Linked DNA regions of Homo sapiens. The protein of the gene in region 1 interacts with the protein of each later gene in a pairwise test. Each region holds a gene or a part of one and is shown in the gene's direction. Other genes may lie near its edges.

Evidence for each region. The genes of interacting proteins can lie anywhere in the genome.
Region 2: the proteins of SPZ1 (region 1) and DTNB interact in binary tests that used the Homo sapiens proteins (3 or more experiments, as listed by UniProt).

What each region holds. Positions count from the first base shown.
Region 1 is NC_000005.10:80,315,126-80,322,451, forward strand, and holds SPZ1 (spermatogenic leucine zipper protein 1), read left to right. Parts: upstream 1-4,876; 5' UTR 4,877-5,090; coding exon 5,091-6,383; 3' UTR 6,384-6,717; downstream 6,718-7,326. UniProt on the Homo sapiens protein: Transcription factor that binds to the DNA sequence 5'-CANNTG-3'(E box) and the G-box motif. May play an important role in the regulation of cell proliferation and differentiation during spermatogenesis.
Region 2 is NC_000002.12:25,670,528-25,678,686, reverse strand, and holds the start of DTNB (dystrobrevin beta), read left to right. Parts: upstream 1-5,109; 5' UTR 5,110-5,301; intron 5,302-8,159.

The sequences.
Region 1 (7,326 bases):
GTGTGAACCAACATGCCCGACCACATTCCCCTGTTTTCTAATAACTGCCCCCCATCATGCCACTTCATCCCTGGTCCAGTTCTTGGGCTGACCCACCCCAAAACTCCATGAGAACATGACCCACCAGGGCCAATCAGTGCCTTCCTTGGCACTTTTGCTATAACTATAGTGAAAGATAAATTTGTTTTCCTCTGGGATTGTTCAATTTCTAGGATATAAACCTGGAGCTACCTGATACCACCATGTAGAGAAAGAATCCTAAGAATGAAGGCACAGAGAGAGACAACTCAGAAATGGTGAGGTCCAGCCCTAATTGTATAACCTCAGCCCCTGAAACTAGGTATGTCAGAAACCATAGGTTTCTTGTTTAACTTAACCATGTTAAGCATGAGTCATTGATACTCTCAACCTTCCACCCTTTCTGCCTCAGTTTATTTGGCTTAAGCCAGTTGGAGTTTAGTCTCTGTCACTTGGTACCAAAAGAGTCATGAATGAGCTCTTCCTTTCTCCACCATCGTGGTGTGTGCTTGACTCCGCTTCTCACCATGTCTTCTCACAAGACTTTCAGGATTAAGTGATTCCTGGCTAAGAAACAAAAGCAAAATCGTCCCATTCCCCGGTGGATTCGGATGAAAACTGGTAATAAAATCACGTACAACTCCAAAAGGAGACACTGGAGAAGAACCAAGCTGGGTCTATAAGGAATTGCACATGAGACGGCACACATATTTATGCTGTCTGAAGTTCACAATCACATTACCATATCAAGCTGAAAATGTCACCACTATCTGGAGAGTTGGACGTTTTATTGGGAATATATTTTTTCTCTCTGAATCTGTTATGAACTTGTTGGTTGGCTGGGTTGAGTAATAAATATGTGAGACCTTTCATTTAAAAAAGAATAATGAATGAAACATTCTATATTTTATTCTTTTAATTAATTTATTTTTGAGACAGGGTTTCACTCCTGTCTCTGAGGCTGCAGTGTAATGGTGTGATCTCGGCTCACTGAGGTCTCTACTTCCTGGGTTCAAGTGACCCTCCCACATCAGCCTCTCGAGTAGCTGGGGCTACAAGCACACACCACCACACCCAGCTAATTTTTTGTATTTTTAGTAGAGAAGGAGTTTCACCAAGCTGTGCAGCCTGGTCTCGAACTTCTGAGCTCAAGTGATGAGCCTGCCTTGGCCTCCCAAAGTGCTGGGATTACAGTCGTGAGCCACTGTGCCCAGACTACATTCTACATTTTGATACTCACTTTGAAATTCAAATGTATTAAAGGAGAACATTGATTTTATATTTTTGTAAAGGCAATCTTGTTTTTTCTTTTTTTGAGACGGAGTCTCGCTCAGTCGCCCAGGCTGGAGTGCAGTGGCACGATCTCGGCTCACTGCAAGCTCCGCCTCCTGGGTTCACGCCATTCTCCTGCCTCAGCCTCCCGAGTAGCTGAAGGCAATCTTGTTTTAAAGAGAGAAAAATTTGGGCCAGACACAGTGGCTCATGCCTGTAATCCCAACACTTTGAGAGGCTGAGGCAGGAGGACTAGATGAGCCGAGGAGTTTGAGACCAGCCAGGGCAACATAGTGAGATCCCCATCTCTACAAAACAAACCAGAACTAGCTAGGCGTGGTGGTGCATGCCTGTAGTCCCAGCTACTCAGGAGGCTGAGGCAGGAGGATTGCTTGAGCCTTGGAGTCTGAGGCTGTAGGTGAGCCGTGATTGCCCCACTGCACTCCAGCCTGGGCTACAGAGCAAGACACTGCCCCCACCCCAGAAACAGAAAATGAAAGAAAAATTTGACACAAATTGTCACCTTAACAATTTTAGAAACAGTTTTTTGCAGTTTTTTTTTTCTTTTCTTCTTCTTCTTCTTCTTTTTTTTTTTGACAGGGTCTCATTCTGTCACCCGGGCTGGAGTGCAGTGGCATGCTTACGGCTTACTGCAGCCTCAACCTTCCGGGCTCACACCATCCTCCCACCTCAGCCTCCCAGGTAGCTGGGACTATAAACACGCGCCACCATGCCTGGCTAATTTTTGTATTTTTAGTAGAGACGGGGGTTTCACCATGTTTCCCAGGCTGGTCTTGAACTCCTGGGCTCAAGTGATCCTCCCAGCTCAGCCTCCCAGAGTGGCATGAGCCACGATGCCCAGCCAATTTTTTCTTTCTTGAGTCATTAAGCTATGTGAAACTTAGTGGATAGAAATTGTAAAACAGTCCAAATGTGTTTAACCTCCATGGTTATCCACTGGGGAATATGGGTCAATAGAGACAAGAGGACCACTCTTGTTTCTCAAAATCTATTTACCTTTCAGTTCCTAACGTAAACACATTCCAACAAAATTAACAACTGTTAATTGGAATTCATTCTAGTTGTAGGGGAAAGGAAATATTTAAATCCTTTTCAGATTTTGTTTTTGTTTTTGTTTTTTTCTTTCTTTCTTTTTTTTTTTTTTGAGATGGAGTTTCACTCTTGTTGCCCACACTGGAGTGCAGTGGTGCAATCTTGGCTCACTGCAACCTCCACCTCCTGGGTTCAAGCGATTCTCCTTCTTCAGCCTCCCGAGTAGCTGGGATTACAGGTGCATGCCACATGCCCGGCTAATTTTTTTTTTTTTAAGTAGAGACGGGGCTTCACCCTGTTGGCCAGGCTGGTCTCGAATTCTTGATCTCAGGTGATCCGCCCACCTCAGCCTCCCAAAGTGTTAGGATTACAGATGTGAGCCACCATGCCTGGCTCTTTTCAGATTAAAGAAAAAAATTATCTTCGTATCTTGACCATGCTACCTTCAAACCAGTTTTCATAAAAAAAAAAATCAAGACAAGAGCAATATTAGATTTATGTCTGACAGCATTAAAAAGCTGCAAGCACAAGAGGATGGAGAATACATTTTCTTTTTAATATCTAGGGAACATACATGAACACTGATAATCTATTAGGCCAGAAAGAAAATATCAATTTCAAAAGGTAGAAACATTACAGACATTTTCTGAATATAGTATGATAAAGCTAGAAATTAATTATCAAAAATTCCCCTGTGCTGGAGATTAAGAAATTGTCTTAAATGATGCTTGAGTCAAAGGGGGAAATAAGAACCAATGCTGAACTTCTAAGATGGAATTAAAGCATAAGGACAGTTGCTAGCATCTATGCTGTCATTGTGTGAATTAGAAAAGGAGTTCCTTTTTCAAGTAAAAGCAGAGACCAACCCTGCTGTATCTGTGAGTAGTCAGTGACGATGGCCTGGAGCCCAGCTGGCTGAAAGATGAGCATGAGGCTCTGGGGAATTAGAGCCAAAATGAGTTGGTAACTGGAGAAGAAAGAAAACATATAAATTTCTCTTCTCTAGGGGAAAAAAAACCTGAGTATGAGTTTTCCCTTAAGACTGGAAGCAAATTTCTATTAAAGTGCTTGCTAGCAAGATTTTGAAGGCCAGGAAAAAGTCATACACAAGAAATGTTTCTTTGATTGAGTTCTATATTCACAAGACCTGACTCCTAAGAACAAAAAGACAAGAAAGCAGCTTATTAAAATGCAAGAAGTTTAATAAACTTGTTACTTTCTATAACCCACTAGAGAATTTACCTGTTTCAAATGCTTTTTATTTTTTAATTTTTAATTTCTTTTTTTGAGGCAGTGTCTTGTTCTGTCACCCAGGCTGGAGTGCACTGGCACGATCTCAGCTCACTGCAACCTCCTCCTCCTGGGTTCAAGCAAGTCTCATGCCTCAGCCTTCTGAGTAGCTGGGATTACAGGTGTGTGCTGCCATGCCCAGCTAATTTTTGCATTTTTAGTAGAGATGGGGTTTTGTCATGTTGCCCAGGCTGATCCTGAACTCCTGGCCTCAAGTGATCTGCCCGCCTTAGCCTCCCAAAGTGCTGGGATTACAGGCATGAGCCACTGCACCTGGCCAATTTTTTAATTTTTTGTGATAGATCTTGCTGTGTTGCCCAAACTGGAGTGCACTAAGTAGCACAGTCATGGCTCACTGCAGCCTCAACCTCCCAGGCTCAAGTGATCCTCTCGCCTCAGCCTCCCAAGTAGCTGGGACCACAGGCACACACTACCATGCCCTTCTAATCAAACACTTTAGAAATATAACTATGTCATTTTAACAAGTTACTGTGTAGAGTGTGGAAATCTTAGGGGATCAATAAAAGAGCCAAAAAAAAAATCCCCAAATAAGTTACTGTGAAAAGTAATAGTCAAAGTTTTCTATCACCTGATGTAAATGATTTGTGAGTAAGCTTGCCAAGCCTGTCTTAAAGGATGCCTATATTCAAAGCCAAGAAAAGTCCCAGTTTGTAATTGTGTTGCTATTATAACCATTCAGATAGTCCCTTCTTGGAGCAGTAGAATATTTTTGAATGGAGGGACTCCTGACATTACTTTCCTAAAATCACAAAAGGCTGTCACTCTCAGGGTTTTGTTTTGTGTGGATAACTTTCTCTTACAGTCACATCTCTCCTAGAATGGGAGCAATAGAGCCTCTAGGTGCTATGAAAGGATGGGGACCTCACCAGAGAGGACTGGTCTCAGCAATGTCCTTAAGTGGTCAAAACATGCTGCGGTTGAGGTCAGGATTGTGAGGGGATAGAGGTGACGTAGAGAAGTAACTGAGTGCATTTAGACTGAGATGAATAGCAACCTAGAAATTAAGGAGGGGAAGAGCTATTGTAGAGCTCTTTCTGGCATGAGGAGTAGGGATAGCTCAAGGTTGGTTTTGATGCAGGAGTCACTGGGCAGGAATTTAAGAGGCTTCCATTGTGACACAAAGGAGACAGACACTATGGATAGGCCACAATGGTGCAGTGACAAAATAAAGACCTGGTTGCTAGGGCCAGAGAATAAACACCGGGTGCCTAGAGGAGAAGAGATGGAGCCCCAGCCTTGGTCCCCTTTCCCACCCTTCCTCCCCACAAGGCTGTCTGAGATGCCACCTTCCACCTAAACATCATCTCCCAAATTTTAATCCTTAACTTTGGTCTCTGACTTCTGCTTGATTCCACAGTCTCCACCCACATTTGCACAAAGGACCATCACCTGTCCTTCCTGGAATCTCTAAAGTTTTCTGCTTTCCTTCTGTCCTGATGGCCAGCTCTGCTAAGTCAGCTGAGATGCCCACCATCTCCAAAACCGTTAACCCTACTCCTGATCCTCATCAAGAATATCTGGACCCTAGGATTACCATTGCCTTATTCGAAATTGGATCACATTCCCCTTCCTCCTGGGGCTCTCTCCCTTTCCTAAAGAATAGCAGCCATCAAGTTACAGAACAACAGACTGCACAGAAGTTTAACAATCTCTTAAAAGAAATTAAAGATATTCTTAAAAATATGGCAGGTTTTGAAGAGAAGATCACAGAAGCAAAAGAACTTTTTGAGGAAACCAATATTACTGAGGATGTGTCAGCCCACAAAGAAAATATCAGAGGACTTGACAAAATCAATGAAATGTTATCAACAAACCTGCCTGTTAGTTTAGCCCCAGAGAAAGAAGACAATGAAAAGAAACAGGAGATGATATTGGAAACCAATATTACTGAGGATGTGTCAGCCCACAAAGAAAATATCAGAGGACTTGACAAAATCAATGAAATGTTATCAACAAACCTGCCTGTTAGTTTAGCCCCAGAGAAAGAAGACAATGAAAAGAAACAGCAGATGATAATGGAAAACCAGAACTCTGAGAACACCGCACAAGTTTTTGCAAGAGATTTGGTAAATCGTTTAGAAGAAAAAAAAGTCCTTAACGAAACTCAACAAAGTCAGGAAAAAGCAAAAAACAGACTTAATGTTCAAGAAGAAACTATGAAAATTAGGAACAACATGGAGCAGTTACTACAGGAAGCAGAACACTGGAGTAAACAACATACTGAGCTCAGTAAACTGATAAAATCCTATCAGAAATCTCAGAAAGACATAAGTGAAACTCTTGGAAATAATGGAGTCGGTTTCCAAACCCAGCCAAATAATGAAGTGTCGGCTAAGCATGAGCTGGAGGAACAGGTGAAGAAACTGAGCCATGACACCTATTCATTGCAGTTGATGGCAGCTTTGCTAGAGAATGAATGCCAAATCTTACAGCAGAGAGTAGAGATTCTCAAGGAACTCCATCATCAGAAACAGGGAACTCTGCAAGAGAAGCCAATTCAGATAAACTATAAACAGGACAAGAAAAATCAGAAGCCATCAGAAGCAAAGAAAGTAGAAATGTATAAGCAGAACAAGCAAGCAATGAAGGGTACATTTTGGAAAAAAGACAGATCCTGTAGAAGCCTGGATGTTTGTCTTAATAAGAAAGCTTGCAATACCCAGTTCAATATTCATGTTGCAAGAAAAGCTCTTAGGGGAAAAATGAGGTCAGCTAGCAGCCTAAGATAGAAAATACCAAAAGCAGATGAAAAGGTGAATCCTTAAAAAACTACATCTGTTACCTCCAACTTGTCAGTCATGATCAATCATCAAACCTTGGGCAGATCTGCTGGTTCAACCAAGAAAGAGCTATAGAATAAGGAGATTGACACTTATATTACTCATTACTTCAGCAGTTATGTAAGTCTGGTCTTTAATGACCATTGTGTCTACATCAAGTTCATAACTTTTCACCTTTACAATCTGCTTGTTTTTTTTGTAATTATTAGATAGACAGCCTAGAGTGAGAAGTTAAAGGTCCAATTAAGTAAAGATCTAAATAAAAACCAGAATACAAGGGAAATTTTTTTTTTCTTTATTTAATCATTGCCTGGGGGCAGGGGGAGTTCTGGGGGGAAAAAGTATATAGTGTTTTTGGCCAGGTGCAGTGGCATTTTGGGAGGCCAAGGTGGGAGGATCGCTCGAGGCCAGGAGTTTGAGACAAACCTGAGCAACACAGCAAGATCCCATCTCTAAAAAAAAAATTAAGTGAAAAAAAAGTACATAATGCTTTAGTTGTGACCTTTTAAAGCTCCCTTTCTAAATGTATGTTTCCTTTTCCTATTATACACTGAAGTGTGGGATGTGGGGGAATTTAAAAAATGCTGATAATCCAACCCTAACAAATCATTTTTCTCTTATAAATCTGCACTGGCTCTACTTTTCCTAAGGTGCCTCCCTTGCTCCTCTGCTAGTGAACTGTGGGCATACGGGGCAGCAGAGGCCCTTGGGAAGGACCCCCTCAACTTGTTTGGAAGAATAGAGACATATCTGAATTTTATTTTATTTTATTTTATATTTTATTTTATTATTTATTTATTTTATTTTATTTTTGTATTGTATTGTATTGTATTGTGTTATATATTTTTGAGGTGGAGTTTTGCTCTTGTTGCCCAGGCTGGAGTGCAATGGC
Region 2 (8,159 bases), on another chromosome or scaffold:
TGTGTTTTGTGATGTGCTTACTTGATAAATTTATTCCTTTTCGTCTAGTATAGGGGTGGCAAACTGTAGCTCATGGGCCAAATCCAGCTCCAAGTCTGTTTTTGTAAATATAATTTTATTGGAACATAGCCACGCCCACTTATTGACATATCATGTATGGTTGCTTATGTGCTACAGTAGCAGGCTGGTGTAGTTAGACTACCAAACCTAAAATGTTTACTATCAGATGCTTTAGAAAAATTTGCTGACCCTGCTCTACTAGATGCTTAAGATGGGCTTGCATGTGCAGTATTCTTTGAGTTGTGCATTTTGTAAACAGTTCTTTTTTATCGACTAGATGTTTTAAAAACAGCATGAATGGATGGATATAAAATCCTTGGCTTGCATCTTTGTTCCTTAAGTTTCCAGAAAATGCTGAAAATGCTGTATCACTACTGCCTTGCTTGTTTGTTGTTCTTGAGACGGGTGATGCCAACTATTTTGGCTACCAGACTCCATAATAAACCACCTACCCTAAAAAGAATGGCTTCAAGTAAGAACCATTTTAATTATAATTTCACAGTCTTTGGAGTTAGGAATTTGGGTAGGGCTTGGCTGGATGATTCTTCTGTTCCCTGTGGCTTCAACTGAGGTCACTCAGTGGTATTCTGCTGATGTAGGGCTTTCATGACGATTTCACTCATACCAGCAAGAATCAGCTAGGTCCTCTCCTTCTCCATGTAGGACCTTTCTGGGGAGTTACATATTTTACATAGCAGCTTGGGGCTTTAAGAATAAGTGTTCTGGCCAGGCACGGTGGCTCACGCCTGTAATCTCAGCACCTTTGGAGGCTGAGGCGGGTGGCATGAGGTCAGGAGTTCAAGACCAGCCTGGCCAATATGGTGAAACCCCGTCTCTACTAAAAATACAAAAATTAGCCAGGTGTGGTGGTGGGTACCTGTAGTCCCAGCTACTCGGGAGGCGGAGGCAGGAGAATCGCTTGAAACCGGAAGGCAGAGGTTGCAGTGAGCAGAGATCGTGCCACTGCACTCCAGCCTGGGTGAAAGAGTGAAAGTCCATCTCAAAAAAAAAAAAAAAAAAAAAAAAAAAGTGTTCCCAAAGACCAAAGACCCAAACTCAAGTGGACACTTAAAGACTTTTTGTGAACTGGGATTAGAAATCCCAGAATATTGCATGTTCTATTGGCCGAGCAATTCAGTAAGGCCATCCTGGATGGAGAGGAATGATAAAAAAAAAAATTGGCAGCCACGTTTAAAGTCCCGCAGCCCAATTTTCTTTTCTTTCTTTTTTTTTTTTTTTGAGGCAGATTTTCGCTCTTGTTGCCCAAGCTGGAGTGCAATGGCGCAATATCGGCTCACTGCAACCTCCGCCTCCCGGGTTCAAGCGATTCTCCTGCCTCAGCCTCCCGAGTAGCTGGGATCACAGGCGTGCACCACCACACCCGGCTAATTTTGTGCATTTTTAGGAGAAACAGGGTTTCACCATGTTAGCCAGGCTGGTCTCGAACTCCTGACCTCAGGTGATCTGCCCACCTCAGCCTCCCAAAGTGCTGGGATTACAGGTTTGAGCCACCGCACCTGGCCTGCAGTCCAATTTTCTTACCCTTTTAAACAATTTGAACTTTGTACCTGCAGACCTTGAAGATTATTATTATTATCAGTTTAACACTGTAAATAGCATAGCTCTCAGAGTTCAGCCTCTGGCAATTTTCCCAGGTAAATGTAGGCCTTATAGGTTTATATCTTATTTTCAGAAAGATTCTTAGATTATAGCTTCGACATATGTAGCACCCCAGTGACACATATGTTGGATATTCTTTGCTTGTATTCAAATGACATTCCAAAAAGAGACAGAAACAAGCACAAAGGTGTGGAGCCAAGGGGAAGTGGAAACATTCCAGGAGTTTGTATGGTGTGTGTGGAGGAAGCAATAGACGATGGATTGGAGAGAATGGGCAAGGGCTAGATTAAGGGAAGTGCTAGACAGTGACACCAGGGGTGGTAAATTTTTGAAAGCTTTCTCTAATCTGCAGCATGGAAGATGGATTGGAAGCAGCAAGACTGGCAGGGAGACCACATAAAAAGCTGCTGCATGGCCAGGCGCAGTGGCTCACGCCTGTAATCCCAGTACTTTGGGAGGCCAAGGCAGGTGGGGATCACTTGAGGCCAGGAGTTTGAGACCAGGCTGGTCCACATGGTGAAACCCCGTCTCTAACTAAAAATATAAAAATTAGCCAGGCATGATGATGGGCATCTGTAATCCCAGCTACTCAGGAGGCTGAGGCAGGAGAATCGCGTGAACCTGGGAGGCGGAGGTTGCAGTGAGCCAAGATCGTGCCACTGCACTCCAGCCTGGGTGACAGAGCGAGACTCCGTCCCAGAACAAACAAACAAAGCTGCTGCATTAGTTTAGGGGAGGTGGGCTAAGAGGGAAAGATTCTAGTTATTTATTTATGAGGAAGCATCAATGGGACTTAGTGGTTGTTGGGTATGGAGTCAGGGCAGAGGGGTGGTGGGAGAAGAAGGAATCAAGAATGGCCCCCCAGTTTCTGAATTGGTCAACTGGGTGGACAGTAGTTTAGACATGTAGAACGTGGGGTACCTCTAGGACACCCAGGTGGAGAAGTCTGGCGGGCTTTTGTGAATAAGGAACCCAGATGAGTGGCCTGAGCTAGAGAGAGTGCACTTGGGAGTTGCTGATATGCGGTAGATAAAGAAGCGGAGTGGATGGAATGGTCCAGGGAGAATGTGTGGCGTGAGACCAGCTGAGGAGAGAATCTGTGAAACTGAGAAGTGGTCACAGGGGTTAAGACAGGAGTCATGCCATGACACCAAGGGAGTTTCAGAAAGAGTGGGCTACTCTGTTCAATGTCACTGAGAGTTCTAACAATATGAGGACTCAGAGATGGCTTGTGGTATTTAGGATCCAACAAGCCATTCATGACTGAGAGCAATGCAGTGATGTGGTGTGGACAGAAACTACATAGGTTTGAGGAGCTGAGGAGCTGCTGAGGAGGTAGAGATGAGGGTAGATGACTTTCAAGATATTTATGAAGGAAAACTCAGAGAGGGACTAGTAACTGAAGCAGAATCTAGAGGGACAGCGAAAGGGTTTCTTCCTTTTTCTTGAGGACAGGAAAAGCTTAAACATGAATAGATGATGAAGGAAAGAGACAAGTAAAGAGAAGTTGGTAATTTTGGAGTGAGAGGGGGAGAATGATTGAAAGGTGTTTGAAAAGTTTTCTGAGGATGTGGGAGGTGAAGAAATAGAGAACAGAGATGGAGAGATGCCAATACAGTGTCCTTGAAGTATTTAATTCCCTTATGGTTTAGGATTGTCTAGTCCACATATTGAAATTACCTTGGTTTCAATCAATAAACCGAACATATCAAGCGATATTTACACATTTATTTTATATTATTTACACATCTTTTCTCCAAAGAACAGAATCAATGTTTTACCCCTCTCAATGCCTTCCACATAGGGGGTGCTCAAAAAGGGCAAATAAAGAAGCTAGAGGTCTCTTACCTGTATTCTGAGTATCTTAATATGTACAAAACATAGCCAAGACCGTGCCTACAAGAGATAAGTCTCCTCAAGCATGAAAATATTCACACACTTCATATATGTAAGGTAAAAGGTAAAATGTCCATCTTTATTTATTTATTTTGAGACGGAGTCTCACTCTCTTGCCCAGACTTGGAGTACAGTGGTGCGATCTCGACTCACTGCAACCTCTGCCTCCTAGGTTCAGGCGATTCTCCTGCCTCAGCCTCCCAAGTAGCTGGGATTACGGCGTACACCACCACGCCCGGCTAATTTTTGTATTTTTAGTAGAGACAGAGTTTCGCCATGTTGGCCAGGCTGGTCTCGAACCCCTGACCTCAAGTGATCCGTCTGCCTCAGCCTCCCAAAGTGCTGGGATTACAGGCGTGAGCCTCCGCGGCAGGCCAGAAAATGCTCATCTTTTGAGGAACCTATTTGTTCCCATTTAACAAAGTTGGTTATCAGCATTTCCTTCACCATAGGAGTTTAAAAATAAAAAGAGGAGAGGAGGAGGAAGAGGGTGTTCTAAAGGCAGGCAGGCAGGCAGGCAGGCAGCAGCAGGAGGTGGCACGATCTGCCTTACCGTAAGGTGCCAAAAAGCAGTGAAAACCATACTCCCAGCATGCAGGCCTGGGGTCGCTTAGCTCTGGAGCTTACAGCCTTCATCATTGACCAATAGCCCCCAAAGGACGTTGCTGTTTTGAGTCTTAAGTAACGTTGAGAATGACCATTTGAACCATTCAAAAAGTCCTTGCTATATTCTAATTTGGCACCATCTCCTGTATTTCACAGTTTGGAAAGAATTCTATAAAAGATGGATAACAGTAAAACACAAAAAAGCTGGTGCTGAGATGGTAAACCTGGCTGCCCCGGCTCCTTTGCCCAAACTGTTTTCCCAGCCCTAATGTCCTCCCTTTTTCCTCCTAGGACTTCTTTTTCTTCCTTCGAGGTTGACCATAAATGCCGCCTCTAGCCCTCTGCGGCGTCCAAGCAGAAGTCGTCTCTAGCTTCTGTGCCAGCATCGCACCGTGGCTTGGCTCTGCACGGGTCATCGGACTTGGTTGTGTACATGGCTGTTTTCCCCGCTAAGTTTGGGGCGCCTCGAGCCCAGGCGCCGTGACCGTGATCGTGCGCCCACAGGCACCTGGTGCAGCGCGGGGCGCACGCCGCGGCTGGGCTAGCTTGCGGAGTTCACGGGGGTCACTCGGGCACAGGCTTGTGACCCAGGCGCGGAGAATGATTCACGGGGTGGCTCTTTGCATTCTTTGTCGGGTAGTCACGTCGGGCCGGGCACCCCGCCGACGGATACCTGCGGATGGAAAGACACCCGGCCCGACGCCAGCGAGCGGGAGAAGCCTGGATGGAGCCAGCTTCCCGCCTGCCCGGAACCCGCCGGCGACCGGTGGGCGGGGCGCGGCCGCGGGGGCGGGGTGGAGGGGGGTTGCTCGGCCGCTCCCGCCCCCTCCCCGCGCGCGGAAGCCACGCCCCCGGCCGCGCGCTCGCGCTGGGCGCGCGCCCGCCCATCCGCCCTCCGCCCTCCGCCCTCGCGCCCTCGCGCCGGGGGCGGGCGCTGCGCGTGCCGGGCGGAGAAGCGGCGCGAGCCGGGCGCTGCGAACGTTCGCCGCGGGGGTGGCTCCGGGGCCTGAGTAGGCGCTGCCGCTGCCTCAGCCGAGGGGGCTGGGCCGGAGCGTGCGGAGGAGTGAGGCCGCAGGAGACCTTCCCGACGACCCCTGCTCCGGCGGGGAAGTGAGCAAGGTGGGGGTCTGCGGCCGCCGCCGGGGCTGTGGGGAGACGAGCTGGGCTGGAGCCTCGCGCCCGCGAGGTGCGGGACGGCAGCTCGCGCTGCGCCGGGACTGGGGACCCGGGAGCCTGCGGGTGCGGCGCTGCAGGAGTCGGGGAGGGCGCGGGGAGCCGGGGCCGCTGCACCGCGCGCGGCTGCGAGGTGGGACGGCGCGGCTAGCCCCGGAGGGACAGGCAGAGGGGATGCGGCGGATCCCGGGCCGGGAGGGGTATCGGGGTCCGGAACGCGCCGGGGCACGGGCGCGAGCGGGGGCCCGGCGCCGGGCTGATGCTGCCCGAGCCCGGCTCGCCTGGAGGCGGCTCTGCGTTAGGTGCTGAAGGGGCGAGTGAGGCAGGTCCTGGCAGAGGGCAGGTGAGGCGGGCAGGCCCTGGCAGAGGGAAGGGTATTTATTTCAGATCACCCCAAATCACTGTTTCCCGAGGCGCCTAATAGCGAACCTGTCCAGGAGGTCACCCTGGACAGGAAAGAAGTGTCCCGAGACGAGGATGCCGGTGACGAATACTTGCCCTTAAATTCCTGTGCCAGGCCTTGGGATTAGGAAGACCTTCCAGCTACCGTAGGTAGAGACCCGTAGTCAGCACTGGGGCCACGAAATAGTATGGAACACCGTCATGTTATTGAGGTGCTGACAGTGTGGCTGTGAAGATATGCACATGAAATACAAAGGAGCGTCGAATTTTATGTCGCATGCCCTATTTACTTTCGGTCTCTTTTGTCTTTTCCCAGTATTGGGAAATTGGAGCCATAAATTGCGTGGTTTTGGGGATAAAGCAGAAAGGTCAAAAGAAGCCTATGGGAGAAATTTGGGAGAGTTTTGAAGGCTCCTACGGGTAACATTTAAAGGGGGCTCTTAGATGGGGAAAAAAGACGTTTGGAAAGAAAGGAAGTTTCCTTCCTTCCCATCTAGAAATAAGCTCCATGACTATTGACTGCTAAATCTTCAGAATGTTGCCTGGCTCACAGCGGTTGAGCCATAAGTGTCTATTGCATGAATGAATGGACAAGCAAGGTTTGGCCACATTTGCCATGGAGCAGTGTCAGTCACTCTAGTGTTAGGGAAGGTTGCTGGATTTCTCCTGTTCCACAAGTTCTCTCTCTCTGCCTCTTTTTTTTTTTTTTTTTTTTTTTTTTTTTTTGCTATGCGAGGCAACCCCGGTTCTGAGGTCTGGGCACGTTAAAGCAATGGCTAAGGCGGCGAGGTCTTGGTTTCTGTGGCCATGCTACCACTTTCCCATGTGTCTTTCATGTTGGCCTTCAAGAGCTTGCTCCTTGGCCTGTTGCTTGAGATCATCCCATTTTGTTCCTTCTCCCATTGGCTTTTTCTATTACTTGAGAAGGAAGAGGGTAGTGTTGTCTAGAGAACACTTTTTCATTTTGGTCCTGGTTCTTGGGTCTTAGACCTGTAGTGCGAGGCTGTTGGTGCCTCTGCTTTTCTGTAAGGGCTGGAATTCTACCTGTGCTCTGCCTTGGTTGAATCTCTGAACTCTGGAGCTCCAGGCTGCTGTTTCAGTAACCTGGGTTGCAGTGCCTGTTGGGTTACTTTGTCTGCCAAATTAAAACTTGACCTTTTATGAGTTCTCTAAGGATTTTTATCATGCATAAGTGGAATTGCCTTTGAAAGGGGTTGTGCAGTCAAGGTAGTGCTGGCAGAGTTTTTGGATGTCCACTATGCCCGAGAGACAAATTTCTACCTATGGTTAGAAAATTAGACTCAGAACCAAGAGAATTTCAACTTATTGTTTATTTTATGTCTTTATGTTACTCTCTCAGGGCCTTAGTTTCTTCGTGTGAAAAATAAGTAATAATCAAAATCTGGCATTGTATAGGAAGCCTTGAAGAAGTAAATTTATTTCTCCTGTTTCAGGGCTGTACAGCCAGCAGGTCTCTTGTTGAGAGGTGCCTAGGTTCTACAATATTGGGTGCCTTATTCCAGGCTCTCTCAATGATATTTTGTTTATGTATTTATTTTAAAACCAACTTTTTGACGTATAGTTGACAAAATAAAATGCACAGATTTCCCGTGTGCGGTTGGATGAGTTTTGGAAAAATGTGTACAGTAGTCCCCCCATTAGCCTCAGGGATATGTTCCAAGAGCACCAGTGGATGCCTGAAGCCACAGTTAATTCCAAACCCTATATAGACTGTTTTTTCCCTATACTTAAGTATCTATGATAAAGTTTTAACTTATAAATTAGTTGCCATGAGAGATTAATGACTTCTCTTAGGCATATGTTTGGCTTCTCTGTGGCATATCCCAATTGCCAGCATCACTACTCTTGCACTTTATTATTAAGTAAAACAGTGGTCACTTGAACACAAGCACTGTGATACCATGACAGTCAATCTGATCATTGAGACAGCTACTAAGTGAGTAACCAGAAGGTGGCTTATGCAGTGTGGATATGCTGGAGAAAGGGATAGTTCATATCCCAGGTGGGACAGAGTGGGATGGCACAAAATTTCGTCACGCTATTCAGAATGGTACACAACTTAAAACTTACAAATTGTTTATTTCTGAGGGGAGACTGCTGTATACTTTGTAACCACCATTCCAATCAAGAAATTTCCATCACCCCAGAATGTTCCCTTATGCTGGTTTGCAGTCCATTCTCTATCTTCCCTACTCCCTTTTATTGATTTCGAATTACACGAGCATCAGAGCTGTGGCACCTAGTTGTGTAGATTGTATTCTGCCCAGCTTTAGGGAGCACCATTCACATTGGAGTCCTTGTGCCTGGCAGCTGCTGGAGTTGTGTAGTGCACACTCTGTGTGACTGTGTGCTGCAACTCTGCAGGTGGCTCAGAACACACA